2 linked regions of the Homo sapiens genome follow. The protein of the gene in region 2 interacts with the protein of the main gene of each other region in a pairwise test. Each region holds a gene or a part of one and is shown on either strand. Other genes may lie near its edges.

What was found.
Region 1: the proteins of TEX264 (region 2) and ADGRG3 interact in binary tests that used the Homo sapiens proteins (3 or more experiments, as listed by UniProt).

Annotation. Positions count from the first base shown.
Region 1 is NC_000016.10:57,678,306-57,685,328, forward strand, and holds part of ADGRG3 (adhesion G protein-coupled receptor G3 isoform 1 precursor), read left to right. Parts: coding exon 1-11; intron 12-871; coding exon 872-1,006; intron 1,007-1,510; coding exon 1,511-1,550; intron 1,551-1,959; coding exon 1,960-2,060; intron 2,061-2,199; coding exon 2,200-2,312; intron 2,313-4,179; coding exon of another isoform or gene 4,180-4,320; intron 4,321-5,626; coding exon 5,627-5,907; intron 5,908-6,084; coding exon 6,085-6,178; intron 6,179-7,023. UniProt on the Homo sapiens protein: Adhesion G-protein coupled receptor (aGPCR) for glucocorticoid hormones such as cortisol, cortisone and 11-deoxycortisol.
Region 2 is NC_000003.12:51,681,246-51,688,268, reverse strand, and holds part of TEX264 (testis-expressed protein 264), read right to left. Parts: intron 6,928-7,023; exon of another isoform or gene 6,884-6,927; coding exon of another isoform or gene 6,839-6,883; intron 3,857-6,838; coding exon 3,635-3,856; intron 3,455-3,634; coding exon of another isoform or gene 3,395-3,454; exon of another isoform or gene 1-3,394. UniProt on the Homo sapiens protein: Major reticulophagy (also called ER-phagy) receptor that acts independently of other candidate reticulophagy receptors to remodel subdomains of the endoplasmic reticulum into autophagosomes upon nutrient stress, which then fuse with lysosomes for endoplasmic reticulum turnover.

The sequences.
Region 1 (7,023 bases), on a different chromosome or scaffold from region 2:
CTCTCTTCAAGGTGAGGACTCAGGGAAGCTCCAAGGTTAAGTGCTAGGTCCTCTGGGGGCTCCATGCCACAGTTTGCTGTCACTGGAGCCTGCCGAGGGATCCAATGGGGACAGAGCAGGCAGTGAGCCTCTTAGTGTTTCTAATGCAGCCCGTGGCCATCTCAGACACCTGTCACTAGAGTCTATGGTCTTCAGACTCACACTGGTCACACGCTCTCAGATGTTTGACCCCCACACATGAGTGCCCTTTGGCTTGTCTATGTGTCCTGTGGGTGCTCGTGTGCTCTGTGTGTCCTCGTGCATGCACAAACATGCACATCCTTTTCTATTCTTGTGCACGCACAAGCCCATGTACTCAGCTGTGATCATATCCACACGAGCAAGTGTACCCATGCCCTTGCACATGTGTATACCAGGTATGTGCACCCAGAGGTGTGCATCCACTCCTGTGCAGACGTGTGTACCCCTGAGGGCTAGTGTGCTCCCCCCACCAGCCTCCTTTCTACCGAATGCACACTCACGCTAAGACCCTCAGGGGCACGCTATCCTCCCCGCTGACTTCCATTTCTTGGCTGATCTTGGCCCCATGCCCCCTCTAGTTAAGAGGGCAGAGGAGCTCTGGAGGCCAGCAATGGAGAGCTGTCAGGTGCACAGCTTTGCAGCCAGTTGACCTGGCCCAGCCCAAGCAGGAGACCACTGGGAGCAGCAGGGAGGAGGCTGCCTGTGACTCCTTGGCTCCCTGGTCCCCTGGTCTCGAACTCTGCCCTCCAAGCAAAGGCCATGGGTTCCTGGAGGCTCCTAGGAACCCCAGCGTTGGTGGGTTGGGATGGCCCCTTCTGCAGCCTGGCCTCCCCGATCTCCCCTTTCACAGGGCCCCCGGCTCGGCCTGGGAGATGGCAGCGGCGTGTTGAACAATCGCCTGGTGGGTTTGAGTGTGGGACAAATGCATGTCACCAAGCTGGCTGAGCCTCTGGAGATCGTCTTCTCTCACCAGCGACCGCCCCCTGTGAGTCCCCTGCTCAGGCCTGGCAGCCACTGCAGGGCAGACAGGCGAGTGGGCACACCTGGGCCCATGGGCCCTGCATGGGACACTACATATCTGTCCCCTACCCTTCCACAGTCGCCCAGGAGGAGCCATTAGGGCCATACACATAATTGGATCCAAGGCCACACACCATAGAGGTGCACATGAGGACCTGGCAAGCCCACCTGCATACACATGGCATTCCACATCCTCCACACCCATGCTCCCCTGACACGCACACATGCATGCAGACAGGCAAACCCTCCTGCCCACAGCCCCACACCACAGTCGCACGCTTCACACGCCGGCCCAGGGCTCATCAAATGGTGCACTTAATTTTTCTGTGTGGCCCATGGGTGTGAACCTTGCTTTCTACCTAATGCACACTCACACTAGGACTCGGGGGAGCACACCGTCCTCCCGCTTCCCCTGCCCTCCCCCAAACTTCCCTTTTCCTCTCTCCTGACTTCCACTCTTCGGTTTCAGAACATGACCCTCACCTGTGTATTCTGGGATGTGACTAAAGGTAGGGCCCGGAGGACCTTCTCTGGGGTAAGACAGGAAGGGAGGGTATGGGCTGCATTGTGGGGCGGGGCTAGCTCCACTGGCTGAGTCCCTCCCCTGCCTTCCTCTCCCCTCCCCTCCCCTCCTCTTTGCTCCCTGCATCCCCTCCCTTCCCCTCCCCTCCCCCCCCTCCTCACCTCCCCTTCCTCCTCCCCTCCCTTCCCTATATTCCCTTCCCCTCTGTTCCCCTCCCCTCCCCTCCCCTCTCCTCTCCTCCCCTCCCTATATTCCCTTCCCCTCTGTTCACCTCCTCTCCCCTCCCTTACCCTCCCCTCCCTATATTCCCTTCCCCTCTGTTCCCCTCCTCTCCCCTCCCTTGCCCTCCCCTCCCTATATTCCCTTTCCCTCTGTTCCCCTGGCCTCCTCTCCAGGGACCACTGGAGACTGGTCTTCTGAGGGCTGCTCCACGGAGGTCAGACCTGAGGGGACCGTGTGCTGCTGTGACCACCTGACCTTTTTCGCCCTGCTCCTGGTAACAGCCCCCTCCACTCTGATCCCAGCCATCCCAGGGGCTTCCAGCTCCTGCCCTGGGGAGGGGGCTGCCTGGTGGTCTTTGGGTATATGGGCCTGGCCTCCAACTGACGTGGTCCCGGTTCTGGGGTCACCCACAGAGACCCACCTTGGACCAGTCCACGGTGCATATCCTCACACGCATCTCCCAGGCGGGCTGTGGGGTCTCCATGATCTTCCTGGCCTTCACCATTATTCTTTATGCCTTTCTGAGGTGAGTGATCCCCACCTCCCCACCATGTCTCCCTCCCGCCCTCAAGGGAGGCAGCAGGGCAGGGTGGGAAGCATTCAGGTTGTGCAGCCTCTGACCGTTGTCCCCTCCACACGTTAGTGTCCTCATCCCAAAATGGGGTTGGGGGTTGAAATGTGTCAGAGCTATTTCAGGAGCAAGTGGCAGAAACTCAACTCAAATTGGCTTAAACATAATAGGGAATGTGTGGTTCACGTAACTGAGAATAGCAAATAGCAAATAGGGTTCATGTAATTGAAAAACCCAAGGTGCATGGACTTCTGGCAGGGTTCGATCCAGGGGGTCAAAAGAGGTCCCCAGAACTTGGTCTCCCTCTACCTCTCACAGCTTTGCTCGCCCCTTGACAGTCACATCGGGCAGCTTTACCACCCTCAGGGGCCCTGGCTGCCTCAGGATTGCATCATAGCTCCTTAGCTGCTTAGGCAGAAATAAAAGAGATCTCCTCTTTCCAAGTATTCTAAGATGAATCCCAGGATTGAGAAGGATTTTATTTTGAGATAAAACAGAAAGATGCAAAAATAGTGCAGAGTCCTGTGGTTCGTTCTCCCAGATTCCCCCTGTGGATACATCATAGACAACTGTAGTTCAATATCAAAACCAGCAGCTGGTGGTACAGTACTGTTGACTAGAATACAGACTTTGCTCAGTTTTCACCATTTTTTATGTACATTCATGTGTGTGTCTGTGTGTGTGTCTGTGTGTGTGTGTGTGTGTGTGTGTGTGCGCGCGTGCGTGCGCGCAGGACATATCATTTGATTGGCCCAGTCCAAAATGAAAATAAAGAAGGCTGGGCGTAGTAGCTCATGCCTGTAATCCCAGCACTTTGGGAGGCCGAGGCAGGTAGATCACCTGAGGTCAGGAGTTCGAGACCAGTCTGGCCAACATGGTGAAAGCCCATCTCTACTAAAAATACAAAACAAAAGTTAGCTGGGCGTGGTGGTGCGCGCCTGTAATCCCAGCTACTCAGGAGGTTGAGGCAGGAGAATCGCTTGAACCAAGGAGGCGGAGGTTGCAGTGAGCCGAGATCACACCATTGCACTCCAGCCTGGACAACAAGTGCAAAACTCCGTCTCAAAAAAAAAAAAAAAAAAAAGAGAGAGAGAGAGAGAAAGAAAATATATGGCCCCTTATTCAAAAAATTTTAAGAATGTCAAGATGGCGACAGTAGAACATTAAGTCCTTCTGCGTATGGGGTCCTACAGAGGTCACATGCTCATGAAACTGGCCCTGTGTGAGCATGTGTGTGCATGTCTGTGTATATCAGCCTATGCAGTTTTATCCCGTGTATACACCAGAGTTGAGTCTTACTGGTCTAACTTGGACCATGTGCCCATGCCTGTCTGGGTCACTGTGGTCAAGAGCTGGAATACACAGATTGGCCGGCCAGGCCATGTGTCTGCTCTTGGGTTTGAGCTAACAAAGAACCCCTGGCCCCTGACTTATGAGAGTGGGGACGGGCGTTCCTTAGGGAAACCTGGGGCTGTGTCCAGAAGAGGTGGGAGTGAGTGCAGGACAGGCAGAAACAGCAGAGAGCACTGCAGCCTGGGCCCAGGCCATGGCTGAGGGACCCACAGGATCTGCCAGCTTGAAGGAGCCTAGGGGAGCTGCCAGTGCTCCAGCTTGTCCTGTCCCCTGCCTCCTGGGGGTCCCTGGGGGTGGCCTAAAGCAGCCCTTGGGTCTCCTGCCCCCGCATCCAGGGCCGTCCCTCCGCCCTCTCCACGTGCCTCTGTGTCAGCATTTGGCCCTAGGCTGCAGCCCCAACTAGGCCCACCCAATCCATCACAGACCAACCCATGAGTGTAAATGGTGCCCCTCACCCCCACCCTCCAAGCCCTGGCCTAGGACATGGTCCCCATCCCCAACAAGCCGAGTGTGACTTGCCAGCTGGCCGCATTGCTGGACCCTGTGAGCGGGGCTTGGAGCGCCAGGAGAAATTACCACCAGCTCCCCAGGGTGGGGCCTGGCATCTCAGGTGAGGTGGACATGATCCCAGATGCTCCTCCAGGAAGCCCCCGGCTCCCCTCCCTCGGCTGAGAGCCCTTTTGGATCTGGTTTGCTAAGAATTCAGAGTGGGGGCTCCAGAGAGAGGGAGGTGAGCCTGGTGAGTCACTGGACAGGGAGTCTGGAGCCCAGGGTTGGAGCCCCTGCCCTGCTCTGTGACCCCATAAGGCTCCCGTCCCTCTCTAAGCCTCACTCTCCTACTGCATTTTCGGCTTCATGCATCCACCCATCTGTCCATCCACTTCACCAATGGATCCCTGGTCCCACCACTGTTAGGCCTGAAGTTCACAGCATGGGAAAGACCCGAGGAGAGAGAGGATGGGGAGTTACACTATGCTGCTGGGAAATGTCCAGTTCAGCTCAGGCTAAGGGGCATTCAGAGATGGCCTCCCCAGAAGGAAACCTCCAAGGGGCATTTGAAAGGCAGAAGAAGAGGAGTCAGGCAAAGAAGGTGGGAGGAGCTGGGGAGCAGGGAAAGGCATTGAGAACAGTGGGAAGAGCTGACCTCTGCGAAATGAGATCAGCCTCACCTTGGTATAGTTTGGGTCATTCCAGGTGTTTTTTTTCTTCTCTTCCCAAGGCTGCCTAATCTCTAGCCAGTGTCTGGCTTTTGACTGATAGGTGTGTTGCTCAGTTACTTTGGGCCCGTGTACGTTTGTGTGTCACCTCCATCCCATAATTTTAAGTACATGCATGATATGCAGCCCATATGCATGAACCTTAAGTAGCTAATTATCATACAGGGTTATGTGAAAGAAACTTTTTCTCTCTAATGTAAATGCCCATCTCTGAAGAGCTGCCCCTTACTGGTTTGGTCCGGATCTTGCCGGCCACGGGGTCCCTTTTTTATGTCACTTTTGTCTTGCCTGCTGAACCTCTGCTTTTCATCTCACTTCTTGCTCACCCGTCCCATTCACCGTGCTTCTATTCTCTGCTTTTACTTATTCTGCCCTTTATCCAACTTTTAATTCCCTTTGCTATTCTCCTGCCTCATTTTCTGGCCTCATTTTCCCTATTATCCTGCCTCACATTGATCAAGGGATGAGGCTGGCAGGATCCGGAACCCACAGGGCCCCGTGGGCCATGAGAGGCTCCTGGACTTGAACCTCAGGACACTCCCACTCTGGCTGCCGGCAGGGATGGAAGCTGGATGAGCAGGCAGGAGCTGGCAGTGGGGGTGGAGAGCCATAGGCTATTGGGGTGGACAGGCTTGGGTGCCTCATGGGAGCTCCCCATGGGAGCTGTGGCCCCTTGGGGCCTCTTATTTCTCACCCCAGGCTTTCCCGGGAGAGGTTCAAGTCAGAAGATGCCCCAAAGATCCACGTGGCCCTGGGTGGCAGCCTGTTCCTCCTGAATCTGGCCTTCTTGGTCAATGTGGGGAGTGGCTCAAAGGGGTCTGATGCTGCCTGCTGGGCCCGGGGGGCTGTCTTCCACTACTTCCTGCTCTGTGCCTTCACCTGGATGGGCCTTGAAGCCTTCCACCTCTACCTGCTCGCTGTCAGGGTCTTCAACACCTACTTCGGGCACTACTTCCTGAAGCTGAGCCTGGTGGGCTGGGGTAGGTGCTGCCTGGATGGACAGAATAAACGGCCGGCCCTGAGGGTGCAGAGGGAAATAGCCTTGGGGAGAGAGAGGAGGGGTTCCCAGAGCTGGAGGGATGGCCATCTGGAGGGGACGTGGAGGAGGAAGTGCCAGTAAGCCCCAGTGGTGTCATGCCATTTCCCCTTGTGCCCAGGCCTGCCCGCCCTGATGGTCATCGGCACTGGGAGTGCCAACAGCTACGGCCTCTACACCATCCGTGATAGGGAGAACCGCACCTCTCTGGAGCTGTGAGTGGCGGCTGTGGGAGCAGGGGTGATGCCAGCTCCCCGGCTACACATATTGGGGCTGGAGAGAGGTGGGGAGAGGAGGGATTTCTAGGAAAATCTAGACCAAATATGTCAAGACCAGAAGAATCCTCAGATCCAGCTAGCTCATGGCACAGAGAAGTAAACTGAAGCCTAGAGAGAGAGAGGGGAAGTGAAATGAGAGAGGGGGCCTGAGAAAGGAGAGGGAGAACTGGACCAGGAGGCAGGATGCCTTACTTGAGCCTGGGCCAACACGAGCCCACATGGCACCTTGAGGCAAAGTAAAGAAGGTCACCCCGTCCGCATGCGGGGTGCGCAGCCTGGAGAGTGGAGGGTGTGTTGGATTTCAGCCCCCACCTGCTGCCCAGCCAGGTGTCCTTGTTCAGGCCACCACCTGCCCAGTGATTCACAGTAGCCCTGGGTCTAGTCTGGGCTCTGCCCTGCCTGCTATGTGTGTGATCTTGGCAGGCCCGATCTCTCCCAGGGCCTCAGTCTCCTCATCTGCACCATGGGGGAACTGATCAACATGCTCTTTGAGGCCCTTTGCCCCTGCAGTGCAGAGGGCAGTGGAGCTGAGTTCAGTTTCTAGACTCACACCTTGGGATCCATGGGGCACCCACCACTGGGCCCATGGCTCTGTGCTAAGAGGAGCTGGTGAGGCCTTGGACCTGTCCCCAGGCCTCAAAAGCAGGGGCCCCAGGAGCTGGAGGGGTCACAAAGGTGCAGGCAGTGGGCCAGGTGGGGACTGCAGCGGACTGGCAGTCACAAGCCCATCTAATTAGCGGTCAGTTACTATCCTTCAGGAGGGCATCCACAGAGCTGCCAGG
Region 2 (7,023 bases):
CTGGGCCCCATCTCCCCTCTGCAGGTTTGCAATTTCAAGCAAGCTCTGTTCCATCCTGCAGCTTCCAGAAGATACCCCTTTCCTGGGACTTGGGGAGTGGTCTCCTCCTGTACTAGAGGCCACCTCCTTGGACTCCAGCGGAGCAGCCTGACAAAGCTGAGGCATCTTCCATATGGAGTGATGGTCACACAGTACGCATGGATTCCAGGGGAATGAGTGTTCAGCCTGGGGGCCCTTAGCAGTTTATATGGAGAAAGGCAGAGTTCCAGCATCTATAGCAGTTTGCCAGGCTGCCAAGCTGGGGAAGGCTAGCCAGAGAGCCAGAGGCTGCCATGCAAACCAGGAAAGCTGAGATCAGCCATCCCTTCCAGAATCCCGAGAGTCCTGACAAGTGCTTCTCCTTGGGCCTCTCGCCGTGAACTTCAGGTCCCTCTGTCCCATGAGACCAATCCTGTTCCAGGCTCAGGCACATCTGCAACTCCCGGGACAGCAGCTGCTCTCCACCTCCCAAACCCGAAGCTAAGATCCATTCACCCCTGCCCCTCACCTAGCCTCTGGAGAGGCTGGTGAGCCTGCCAAGTCCTCCCCCCGCAACTCCTGGCAGCAGGGCTCCTGGCCTCTCTCACCCCTGCCAAAGCAGAAAGCTGACGGCTGCTGTCATTCCATTTGAAGAGCCTTCACAGCAGTCCCAGATCCAGAGAGAAAAAGAAGGGTGTACACACGCGCACGCACACACAGTTAAAAGCTGTCGGTGCTAGAAGAGTGAGACGCAACTAGTCTCATTAGTAATCTCCTTTCTCTGACCTCAGGGCAGGGGAGATGAAGGCAGGGATGGAAGGGAGCCTTATACTCTCTCCTTGCTGTCTCCTGGGCTGAGAGAGGCACAGGGCCACCCCTGTCCACTGCAGGCTGTGACCAGCAAACAGAGCTAGCCCCTTCCTCATCTCTCCCCTGGCTTTGTTCCCCAAGACGCAAGGTCAGGCTAAACACAGGGGCAGAGGCAACCCCCACACCCTGCTGCCAAAACAAGCCCAGGACCTTCGGCCATGCCTCTTCTGTGGGCAGCCGGCCTCTATCTTACTCTCCCCGCTGATGGCCAAGCCCACACAAGCATGCCTCACACCTGTCTCTGGGAGAAGCCCCTTGCTCTCCCCCATATCACTGGCTTCCTTGTCTCAACCCCCACTCCAGGAGCACAGCTGACAGGCTCCCATGGGAGCGGGGAGGAAGGAGGAAGGGCTTTCATCAAAGAGGTGACGTCAAAACCAGGCAACTTGTGAAGCTGTCAGGGGCCGGGAAATTTGGACAAAGGTGTCTAAAAATAAACCCCTGAAGCCAGGAAAAGGCTTTGGTGGCTGAGTTGCTCACCACCACACCACATGCCACATGTCCTGTTCTGAGGTCTGGAACCCAAGAAGTCTCTTTCCCAGGGGTGCCCCTCCAGATGGGCCCATGAGGTTGAGGATGGCACCGACAGGACTGGAGAGGCCTTCCTTGAATGAAATGGGGCGGGACTCCCCAGAGGCAGCACACTAAGCAGGCCTAGGGCACTGGTATCTTCCTTCCTGCCCACACCACCAGCCAGCCCGCCCCCACCTCCAGTCCAACCGCAGCCAGGCAAGCACATCCTGCCCCACACCCCTTTTGGCCACCACCCTCCAGCTCACAAAGGAAACTCCCCTCTATTCTCCCTGTGCCCTTGCCTTATCACCGTGACAGCCCTCCCCTTTCCAGGTCTTCTCACTCCTGATTCTTCAAACCTGTCTTTGACCGCCAAGGACACAGCTGGTGACCCAGGGCCTCATTTATTCATTCCTCAGCCCCAACACCAGACTCCAGGGACATCTGAACTCCCATTTCCATCATCAACGCTGTGTCCCTTTCCCCAAGCTGCTTTGGTGAACAAAGTTGCAAGGATCCTCCAAGTGTACCAGGCTCTCACTCCCACTGACTCTCGTCCTGTTCCCTGACCCCTGCCACACTGGCCACGCCCTCTGCGCAGCCTTTGCTGCCACAGGCTGTCCACTGCCTACCTGGTCCCACAGAGGCAGGGAGGCACAGGGCAGCCTCCCAGGTCAAATACTGCCAACAGGCTGATGTCCCCAAATATATCCACCAGCCCAGCCTTTCCTCAACTCCAGGCCACACATACCATTGCTGACTCCACACCCCCCAACTTAGATGTATCTCAGGCAGCTCCCCTGACATAGCCCAAATAGCTACCTTCCCCCCAAAACCAGGGCCTCCCTCAGTTCCCCACATGTCAGTGAAAGCATCACTACATACTTGCCCACCTGCCCAGGCCAGAGGGGAGCAGAGCCCTCTGTGACTCCCTCACTGCCTCTCCTTCCACAACAGTGAATCCACCCAAAGTCTATCAGTTCTATCCCAAAAGTGATTGTAAATCTCCATCCTTGTCCACAGCTCTATAGCCGCTGGGCCTGCCCAAGCTGCCACCACTCACAATGGGATTCATGACAGCCTCCTAGGCTAATTCCTTAGCCCCAGGCCTAAGCATCTCCACCTGGTCCCAGATCTGTGGTCCAGTCCCACCCTGCCCAGAGATGGGACAGCTCATCTTGTACAGACGTGGCTCCAACTGTGTTATTTTCCTGGTTGGAACACTGCAGTGACTTCCTGCTGCATTTAGACCAAAGCTCTGACTAGAAGTTCTTATCTCCTCTCTAAAGGCTCTTCTAGGACTCTGCCTTGAGGTTATCTCCTCTGAGAGGCTGTCCCTGACCATTCTGTCCAAGTTGGTTCCCTGACTTTTCTCACCCTCTCCTTCTCTAGCACACGTCCTATTTTTGTCTGATATTTATTACCTATCTTCACCACCTCACTGTGAATGGCTGTTTCATGCACCAACGTTTCATTCACATTGTGCCCATTATAGCACCTGGCACACAGACTATAAATACAAGTTAAATGAATGAACAATCACGTCCAAGCCCAAACTGGGGTCATTTCCCTAGCAACCAAGTTTACAAAACGTTTAGGGGAGGAGGGATGTGTAACAGGGCAAGTTTTAAAAAAATTTCTGTAGACACAGAAACCCGTCAGATGACCAGGTGACTGGCTCTCCTTCCTCCAGGAAGGTTGGGCTGCCAGCATTGCCAGTAACCAAGTCAGGAAGTAAAGGAAACAGAGCCTGCCACTGCTGTCCCAGCCCTGGCCTCTGGGAGCAGATGTATAAGCCCATGCACAGGCAGGGCCACGGGCAATACATGATTACCTGGGGCCTGCCCAGACACTGGGAGCCTCAGGTCCTTGCTTTGCAGGCCTCCAGCAGGATGAGAATAAAGTGGCCTGTCCATTCATCTGAGCCAGGAGTGTGGGATAAGCACTATGGATGTCTTTGGTCAAAGCCAGAGCCAAACTAACCAGATCAGATTTATGAACAAGTTCTCCATGCTCTTGGGATATGCTCCGGCTTCCAAAAGATCTTGGGCATCTGAAAGAGATGCCAACAACCTCTGCCCATCTTCCTAGCTCCACAGGTACCTGTTCCATGAGGGCCCCAGGGTGCTGCTCTCCCAAAACCACTTCTTCCTCCCATTCTAGGCAGTCCTCCTCAGCTCCACCCAAGGGGCCTGGCTGTCCCCAACACACACACCCCAGGCCTGTGCCTCACCTTGATGTAGGTGTCCAAGGCAGGATGGACACGGCGGGTAGCCAGCCAGATGGACAGAATGGTGGTGTAGGGGAAGGTGGCTGTCACCACATGGCTGGGTGCCGGGAAGGAGAACACCTTGAAGCCAAATTTCTGGTAGAGGTCGATGAGCTCAGGGGAGGGCGATTCCTCACCTTCACTCAGGATGCTGCCCACGGCACATCGGCACTTATCAGGGGGCACCTGGGGAAGCAAAGCATGGGTGTGAGAGTTGGCCAAAGGAAGGAGGCCCTCAGACCTCCTTCCTCCTGGGACTGTGCCAGATCAGGCCTAAAAGAACCAGCAGCTCTGACAAGCCATGCAGCCCCAGATACCAGGACACAGCTAGCTATTTTCTTACTGGAACCCACCTATGGCCCCTGCCTGTGGCATCGTACCACAGGACTCTCATCTATTCCTTCAACAAACATGCCATGCCCTGTGGAAACCCAGGGATCATAGTGAGGGGTTAGACTTGGTCTCTGCCCTTCTGGAGGCCAGGAGAGGGAAGGGCGGAGAGGACCTCTGAACCATCACCCTCCACATGGCTCCACTGAGGGGGCCCTTCCACCCCACCATAAGACCCTCTGTCAGCCCCCACGCCCCAGGGCCACCAGCAGAACTGTACAGTGGCTGATCCTGCAGCCTGGGTCCAGCAAAATCCTATTAGCTAATTTCCCTCCTATCTCCTGGAGAAGAGCAGGCTTTACAGGCAGAGAAATTATGGCAGGCAAGGGAGCAAAACTGAGGAGTGGTAATAAAGAGCTCAGAGCCCTCCACGGTCATGCCCTAGGAAAGCAAGAACACGTGTGTGTGTGTTTACACACATGCTTGCAGGGTCAGGACCTGGCAAGTGGCTGAGGAGGGGCTGCAGGAAGCACCTGTCAGGACATAGGATTGGGATCACTGACATCTGGGTTGCTGGTGAAATTCTGTGAAGAGATCATCCTCCCCACCCCTCTGGCAGGGCCAGCTACCATCACCAGAGCCTCTAGACTTCTTCTGCAACCCATGGCCCATCCAGGGACCTATCCCACTTCCTAAGTCCCTTCCTGGCTAAAAGCCAAGACCACTGGTTCCCCTCCAAATCTCTGTAGGTTGCTAGTGCCTGCACTTCCCACTCTGCTTGCCTCCCTACCTAATTTCCCTCCTCTGGCTCCCAGAAACCTCAGCCATGTAAGGCTCCTATGTGAGCCTCCAACACTTCCTAGGACTGAATGAATGCTGCAAGGCCCAGTACTCATTTCTCCTCCTGGCATCAAGAGGCCTCACTTTGTCTCACCTACTGCTACCTGTTTCCCACGTCAGCTTTCCAGGTGCCTAAGTCTGTACCAGCCTTCAGACTGGGCCCTCAGAGACATATGATCTTGAATCCAAGAGATTCAGCACAGACCTTGTACCCTCAATCCTGGGTTTTGCTCAACTCTAAAGGCTCCTTTCTCCCTACCCACCGCAAAAAAATTTTTTTTGCCAGCAGTTCACCTTCACAGGGATGACCCCTAAGTTTAAACAGGCTTCTCCCTCTACCTCCACTTACTCCTCTCCCCAGCCCTCCTTCCCAGCACTGTGAAGTCATTATTACCTGTTCTCACCTCTCCCTCCCATTACAGCCCTTTCCAAGCCCTCTCTGAAATCCCCTGGGGGTTTCTCAGCCCTGAATGGCCTCCTCTACTCAGGCCAACCCAGGCCTTCCTTTTAGTCACAGTTTGCCTGGGACTTGGGCACCTATTCCAGGCTCTCACTTCTAAGCAGACCCTAACGGTCACCCTCAACTGTCTGCAGCTCTGGTCCCCTTGCAGCCCCCTTGAAGCCTACGGCATCCAAACCTGGCTCAGAGCTTTAGTAGCAGGCAACCGGGTGTAGTGGTCAGAAACACAGCTTGAGAGAGGCAGGCCACGGTGCGAATCTGAGTCGTGTGATTCTAGACAAGTCCCTTGGGTTCTGGGAGCCCCAGTTCCTCAATATCTACTTACAGAACTGCCATATTAAACAAGAAACTTCACGAGAGCTTAGCCTGGGTCCAGCATTCAGCAAATGCCCCATAATTGTGGTTATTAGTAGCTATGACACAGTCCAAACAACTGTCCATGGCCTAGAATGCCCGACCACCCAAACCTCTGAATATGCAGCTCCTCCCTGCCTGTCCTTCCGGTTCAAATACCCTCTTGAAGAGCCTTTCAGCGTGGCTCAGTGGCACTCTCTTCTCCCCCAGTATTTTGCTGTAAACTTTCTTGCCCTCCATAAGTCTACCTTGCACACAGTCACTTCTTTTGGCCTGAAGCTCCTCCCACCCCACCCAGAGGCACAGGAGATCACTGCAATACCATCTCTTGTCTCTAGATGGTGGAACTGCCCTACTCACACGCCAAGACTTGAGAATGACCAGATAGGCAGGAAGTTATCTGGCAGGCCTCCTGCTGACAAGCCAAGAGACACTGCCTGCCACAAAGCCTATCTTCATGTCCCTGACCCTACCAACCTGTGCTGTGCAAAAGAAACATCTACATAAGTCATATGGAGAAACGGATGAAAGGTCACTTATTCTCTTCCTTTCTACAGCTGGCTTGCCTGGGTTTGAGTTCCAGGGTCTTTCCTGGGAACGCTTCAGCAGGCCTTATGGGACTCCCAGCTCAACATCCTCTTCAGTAGCCAAAAGACACCAGAACACATGTGGTCATCTTGCTCAGAACCTCTCAATGGCTCCCAATTTACCTCTAGGATGAAACTAAATTCACAAGCCAATAGGCAAGGCTCTTTTGGAGTGGCCCACATAATACTGCATGAATTTGCCCACACACTCACCTTGCACTCCCTTTCTGCAGCCTCAGGCCCCAGCAGGGGCCAGAGCCCAGGTGGGCAGGCACCAACTGAGTGTCTGCATGGCAGAGGGAGGGACAGATCCAGGCTCTGGCCCAGCCCGCCTTGCCAGCCTCCTCACCCGCCACACCCCCACACACACCCACATGAAACTATTTGCAGCTCCCCAAACATGCCACATCCTCCCATGCTTCCTGCCTTTGCGTAAGCTACTTCCTCTGCCTGAAATGTCCTTCTTCACCCTATTCCAGAGTCCCTTCTGACTGGGAAACTCCTGCCCATCCTGCAAGACTCAGCTCAACTTTCCCCTTCAAAGCCTTCTGTTGCTCTCCACCAAGCAGCCCCTCCTCTCTGATCCCAAGTACCCACCAGGGAGCAGGTGTTGTGCTGCACTGTAACTGATGGCCTCCCCATCTCTCTCCATCACTCCAGGCCTCTAGGCAAAAAGGTCCAGGATCCTGCGCACACAGAAAGTTCTTGAGGCATGCTCAGTGACAGTACATGCATGCACACACAAGCAAGCCCTGCACCATAACAAACTTCCTCTCCCTCCA